2 linked regions of the Homo sapiens genome follow. The protein of the gene in region 2 interacts with the protein of the main gene of each other region in a biochemical or structural test. Each region holds a gene or a part of one and is shown on either strand. Other genes may lie near its edges.

Region 1 (3,500 bases), about 30 Mb from region 2:
GCTAAACTGAAAATACTACCTAGGGAATGGGAATATTTGATTCTTGGATAAACTATTAGTTCACATTTACTATGTTCACAGAGGATACAAAAATCTAATTTTTAAAAAATTCTGGACCTAAAAATTTAATTATACATGTATGTCACTCCATTTACAGATATAAAGATAACTCGAGTAGTATCAGTAAGGCATAGCTAAGGTAGGGGCTCTCACCTCTGGGCTGTCCATTTTAATGACCTGGCAGACTTTTTAAAAACACTACAGGGTTCCACTCCCAGAGATTATGGTGTAATTGGTCTGAGGTAGGGCTGGGGTTTATTTTTGTTTTTTTAATCACTTGCAGTGCTTTAATATAATATATAGCCTGTGTTGAGAACCAGCTACAGAAGTATCAAGTGCCATAAGAAAGGCACAGGTTAAGTATTTTCTGAGTCCAGGAAAAGAAAAGATTGTTTTCACCTGAAAGGGAACTGGAACGTATGCTTGAAATGTATAGCATTTGACTGAATCTTGAACATACTGGTAGAATTTGGATGAGCTGAGATGGGAGAAAGGAAGGATACTGAGATAATAGTCATATAAGGGAAAGACATTGCAGCCTGACCCTGGTGCATGACAGAAACAGTGAGTAGCTTAGTTTATCCTCTGTAGACCTGAGGAGCTGTCTGAGAGCTGGAAATACTGGCTTCTTGGATATTTGATGTGTTATTTTGAACAAAGAAAACAGTAAGTGTTCTTGGTATCTTTCCTTTTGCCATTCTTCATACCCTCATCTATTTAGTACTTTTTCTTTAATTTTAGCTATTGCATTTTTTTTTTAGCCTGTCTTCTCTGACCAGAAGGAGGAAAAAGAATACAGGCAGGACAGCGAACTAAATTTGAGCCCCTATTTGCCACTATTACTGATGGAGTAATTATCTTAAATGTCTCCACTTTATTTTTTCTTTTTTTGTTTTAGAGACAAGGTCTTGCTCTATCACCCAGGCTGGAGGACAGTGGCTTCATCATAGCTCACTGCAGCCTCAAACTTCTGGGCTCAAGCAGTCCTTCTGCCTCAGCCTCCCCAGTAGCTAGGACAACAAGCACACACCACCATGCCTGGCTTTTTTGTTTGTTTGTTTTTGACACAGGATCTTGCTGTGTTGCCCAAGCTGGTCTTGAACTTCTAGCCTCAAGCTGTCCTCCCACCTTGGCCTCCTGAAGTGCTGCGATTACAGGCATGAGTCAATGTGTCGCCACCTTTTTTTTTTTTTTTTTTTTTTGAGAAAGAGTTTTGCTCTTGTCGCCCAGGCTGGAGTGCAATGGCACAATCTTGGCTCGCCTCCCAGATCCTCTTGCCTCAGCCTCCCAAGTAGCTGGGATTACAGGCATCCACCACCACACCCAGCTAATTTTTGTATTTTTAGTAGAGATGGGATCTCACCATGTTGGCCAGGCTGGTCTCGAACTCCTGACCTCAGGTGACCCACCTGCCTTGGCCTCCCAAAGTGCCTGAGATTACAGGCGTGAGCCACTGCGCCCAGCCAAGTCTCCACTTTTTATCCTAACGTTCGTAATAGAACTCCTTTGACTCGTTTTAAACCTTCCACAGGTTCCTCTGGCAAAACCTTTCTCATCTGATTCATGCTGATTCTCTTGAAGATAAAATTTTAATGTTGTAAAATGCTAATTAAGTGTCACTTAAATTTTGAAAAGACTTCAATGCTTTATTTATACATACATCTTTGCTATTCTAATTATTAATTAAGTAGATTAGGTAGTGAAAGCCACAAAATAGTCTTGGGATCTCATAAAATTAGAGTTGAGGCCAAGCGTGGTGGCTCACGCCTGTACTCCTAGCACTTTGAGAGGCTGAGGTGGGTGGATCACCTGAGGTCAGGAGCTTGAGACCAGCCTGGACAACATGGGGAAACCCCGTTTCTACTAAAAATACAAAAAAATTAGCCTGGTGTGGTGGTGCATGCCTGTAGTCCCAGCTACTAGTGAGGCAGGAGAATGGCCTGAACCCAGGAGGCAGAGGTTGCAGTGAGCCGAGATCGTGCCACTGCACTTCAGCCTAGGTGACAGAGTGAGACCCTGTCTCAAAAAAAAAAAAAAAAAAAAAATGGAGTTGAGATGGAAGGCAATGAATGATACACCATTTTGTTTCATCAGGGATTTTAAAATCAATATTCAGTCTCAATTATTTCTTTAAAACTTCAGTCTCAATTATTTCTTTAAAACTAATCCAGAAAAGAGATTTCTTGAACAGTTAAATGATTAATAACATTTTAATCACCTTTGTTGAGCCTAATACTCTTACATAGTCAATGACGTAGGGCATTGTTCAAGGCCCCTGCTAACACGTGTCACTTGTATGTGAATTAGAAAATTGTAATTCTATCTGGGAACGGTGGCTCATCCCTATAATCCCAGCACTTTTGGGAGGCCGAGGAGGGCAGATCACGTGAGGCCAGGAATTCGAGACCAGCCTGGCCAATATGGTGAAACTCCGTCTCTACTAAAAATACAAAAAATTGGCCGGGCACGGTGGCTCACGCCTGAATCCCAGCACTTTGGGAGGCCAAGGCTGGTGGATCAGAAGATCAGGAGATCAAGATCATCCTGGCCAATATGGTGAAACCCTGTCTCTACTAAAAATACAGAAAACTAGCCAGGCATGGTGGCACGTGCCTGTAGTCCCAGCTACTTGGGAGGCTGAGGCAGAAGAATCACTTGAACCTGGGAGGCGGAGGTTGCAGTGAGCCGAGATTGCGCCACTGCACTCCAGCCTGGCAACAGAGCGAGACTCTGTCTCAAAAATAAAAATAAAAATACAAAAAATTAGCCGGGTGTGGTGGCTCGCGCCTGTAATCCCAGCTACTAGGGAGGTGGAGGCAGGAGAATCGATTGAACCCAGGGAGGCGGAGGTTTCAGTGAGCCAAGATTGCGCCACTGCACTCCAGCCTGGGCAACAAAGGGAGACTCCGTCTCAAAAAAAAAAAAAAAAAATTGGAATTCCCTTCCCTTACATAGATAGGTTCCATGGCAAGTGCACACAATATGTAAGACAGAACACAGGCTAGATTTCAGCCCCACTTACTTGCTTGGCCAGCCACCCTTGTACAAGGCACGGCTGTACACAATAGCCCTAGCATTATGTGCTGTTTTCGTATAGCTACCCCTCAAGTTTTTAAATAACTGGAATAGTCCCCTTAGTGTTGGGGCTGGTGGCACAGAGGAATGGCAGAGAGAATGGAGCAGGCAGGTCATCTTTACCTACCTTTCACTACCTCTACCTCTAGCACATTCTAGTCCAAGCCTCTACTGTCTTCCGTGGCTTCTCACTGTTCTTTATACAATCGTTCCTTATACAGATGGACTAGTGACCCTTTCAGAATAAAATACATGCGACTGTCTTACCCAGAACTTTCTGATGCCTTCTTATTGCACTTGGAATAAAATCTTTCTTTTCTTGATGTACAAGAGTATACATACTTTTGTTTTGTTCTTTTTTTTTT
Region 2 (3,500 bases):
AATATCCACACTTACTTTGAGGAAGCAGTCACTTGACCCAGTGGCTAAGAGAAGATGATGACTACTGTTGGTGAAATGGCAGCAATTGACTTGCTCTGAGTGCTCATCATAGGTGTGTACTAGTTCCCCAGTCATAGAATTCCAAATCTAAAGAGAAAAGAGAAAAAATTTACAAATATCCATTATTTTCAAAGGGAGAACAGAGGGGCAAAGCAATGTCCATTGCTTTGCAAATGCTATCTTATCCTGTCATAGCAGATTTTCCTAGTTGGACAAGATGCTAATGAAACCTCTCCCCTTTCTAAAATATGGCAATATTTTGCCTTAATGTTTAAAAAAAATTATTTGCAAATATACATATATGTACCTATAGCATAACTAGAGTGTCATGAACACATGACATTTCTTAAGGGCAAGATTTCACATGTTTATATGAATGAAAGCAGGCAGAGAAGTGCTTTAAAGAGGTTAGCATAATAGATTTCTGGTCAGAAGGGTTGAGCCCAAGAGCTGGCTCTACCACTTATGACTTGTGTGTCACAAATCCCTAACTTACCTGCATCTCAGTTCCCTCTTCTGTAAAATGGGGATATCTATACCTCTCCCACACAATTTAAGATATCAAATGAGATAATGAACATGACAAGTGTTCTATGGACTTCAAGGTACCATATAAATAAGTAAAGGCAGATTGCTTAGTTAAAAAAAATAAAGGTTTTATAGTCTGAGAGAAACCCAGCTTTCAACCCTATTACTGTTCCCAGTTTAATGTAAGCTTGAGCAAGAGACTTCATCTCTGAATCTGCGTCCTCTTCTGTAAACGGGATCGACACTTAACCCTGCAAGCTGTAGCAGGAAATTGATAATGTAATATGACAAAGTGTGTAGTATTTATAGCCTCTTATAGTGTTCAGTTTTCAGTAAAAAGTAATCATCAGGCCGGGCGCGGTGGCTCACGCCTGTAATCCCAGCACTTTGGGAGGCCGAGGCGGGCAGATCACGAGGTCAGGAGATCAACACCATCCTGGCTAACATGGTGAAACCCCGTCTCTACTAAAAATACAAAAAATTAGCCAGGCGCGGTGGCGGCCGCCTGTAGTCCCAGCTACTCGGGAGGCTGAGGCAGGAGAATGGCATGAACCCGGGAGTCGGAGCTTGCAGTGAGCCGAGATAGCGCCACTGCAGTTCAACCTGGGCGAAAGAGCGAGACTCCGTCTCAAAAAAAAAAAAAAAAAAACAAAAAAATTAATCATCATTCTAGTTACTATGTAAGACAACTAAGCAGTCTATGCCATATAACAACAAACAAAAGAAATAAATTACCTAATGAACCTTCACTGGGATTTTGACTTTTTAGAGGTACTAATGTCCTTTGGCATTTCCTTTGTATGTTATCAAAGCACTGATTAGAATCCCCAGAGGTCCAGAGAGTTTATCTTATTTTAAAGTTCTTTAATAGGTATTTCTACCTCTGGCTTAGAAAACAGAAACTCATTATTATTTCCTTTTACTCCATGTAGCTCTGACTTTAGAACTGCCCTCAGTGGCCACCTCCAAGTCTGACTCAGAGTCAGAGTAGACACTACAGAGTGAATTAACTGTTGGTTAAGCCACGAGTCCAATCTATCAAGAGGTAGATTTTTCCAAGGTCTCAAATTTAGTCTGGACATTCCATAGCCCTCTTCCAGTAGGTGAAAACTTCAGGAAAACACCCAAGGCAAATTTCTTGCCCACTCCACCTAGCTACATCCAGTACTCCAGATTTAACCCCTTTGAAAAAGGGTTAAAGTAAGGTCTGTCTTCCATATATCAGTGATAACCCCCACAAGCCTTCAGTTTCTCTTGAATTCTATATTAGTATAAATGCTCCTGGTAGAAGCCAAATTTAGGAACAAGAGAATACTTAACAAAAATAAAAATTACTCTCTGGCGGGGCACAGTGGCTCATGCCTATAATCTCAGCACTTTGGGAGTCAAAGGCAGGCGGATCACTTGAGGCCAGAAGTTCAATACCAGCCTGACCAACATGGCAAAACTCTGTCTCTACCAAAACTACAAAAATTAGCTGGGCATGGTGGTGCACACCTGTGATCTCAGCTACTCAAGAGGCTGAGGCATAAGAATCAATTGAATCCTGGAGGCAGAGATTGCAGTGAGCCGAGATTGTACCACTGCACTCCAGTCTGGGTGTCAGAGCAAGACTCTGCCTCAAAATAAATAAGTAAAAATTACTCTGTTTACTTTTCTCTATTTATGTTTTTAGACCAGTAACGTAATTATTAGTTTGTTCATCCACCTGGTTTTCCACTGAATATATAAGCCAGTTCATAAGCAAATTAAAAAAATTGGGGTTGCATTTTAAAATTGTATCTTACAACAGGAATCCCCAAGTTTGTGCAGCAACACTCCTAATCACAATGCACTCAAAGATTTCAACTGATATTTAACCCATGGACTTGTCTATTAATGGAAGACAAACTCACTAATTTGTCATTGCTTTTCCCCACTGCTTGTTTAATCCTGAGGTGATCAACCTAGGCATTTTTGCTGGTGTTTAAAAATAAAGAATTTTCAGGCCACGCACAGTGGCTCATACCTATAATCCTAACACTTTGGAAGGCTGTGGCAGGAGGATCACTTGAGCCCAGGAATTGGAGTTTACAGTGAGCTATGATCATGCCACTGCCCTCCAGCCTGGGTCACAGAGCAAAATCCTGTCTCTTTAAAAAAAAGTAAAGAATTTTCAGATAGTGTTAATTTACAATGAATCAGGTTAGTAGATCAACAGGTGAGAGTCCTTTAACTCTACTTACTCTGGTCTCATGATCATGGAAAAATAAAATGAATTCTGTTGTGATTACAACTCAAGAGGAAAAGATTTTCCTACCTTCACTTTTTTATCCACTGAGCAGGTTGCTATAAATCTGTCATCTGTAGAGAATGCACAACAAAGCACTTCATCCTCATGAGCCTTGATTTCTAGAAGTTTCTCTCCTGTTTCAGCTTTGAACACCTGCACAAGTAACAATAAAATATTTTTTATAATAAACTGCTTAACTACTGGTCATCATTCAATAAAAATCTTTAAGTGAGTTTAATCATTGTCATTTTGCAAAACAGAAAGGAACCTTGGCAAAGCTACTCCCAAAATCAGAATTTCTGTCAGAATGTGTATGCCTTCACATAACTAGAGAACTATTCACTGTTACATGTTTGTAAATATCAATGAAAATGTTACAGGATCTTTGGGGTGTTGATTTTCTGGCCAGAAACTTCTGTGGCCGGTGGCGCCTTTGCCCAAGTTTTGCTTGGGCCCACTGGTCTTGTTTCACCCACTTGGCCTGACAGGCTGCATTCAGCTCACACTACCAGCCTGGGTCCCAAGCCTGCCAAGGGCGAGTCAGGCGTGGAACAGCGAGGCGTGTGTGAGTGAGCGTGGGGTCCAGCCACTGCGCACAGACGTGCTGACTGCTGCAGCGGGGCAGGCAGCTCCAGGTGCC

The links.
Region 1: the proteins of APAF1 (region 2) and NUP107 form a complex in vitro, tested with the Homo sapiens proteins (one study listed by BioGRID).

The regions. Positions count from the first base shown.
Region 1 is NC_000012.12:68,735,478-68,738,977, forward strand, and holds part of NUP107 (nuclear pore complex protein Nup107), read left to right. Parts: intron 1-3,500. UniProt on the Homo sapiens protein: Plays a role in the nuclear pore complex (NPC) assembly and/or maintenance. Required for the assembly of peripheral proteins into the NPC. May anchor NUP62 to the NPC. Involved in nephrogenesis.
Region 2 is NC_000012.12:98,679,790-98,683,289, reverse strand, and holds part of APAF1 (apoptotic protease-activating factor 1), read right to left. Parts: intron 3,014-3,500; coding exon 2,888-3,013; intron 148-2,887; coding exon 16-147; intron 1-15. UniProt on the Homo sapiens protein: Oligomeric Apaf-1 mediates the cytochrome c-dependent autocatalytic activation of pro-caspase-9 (Apaf-3), leading to the activation of caspase-3 and apoptosis. This activation requires ATP. Isoform 6 is less effective in inducing apoptosis.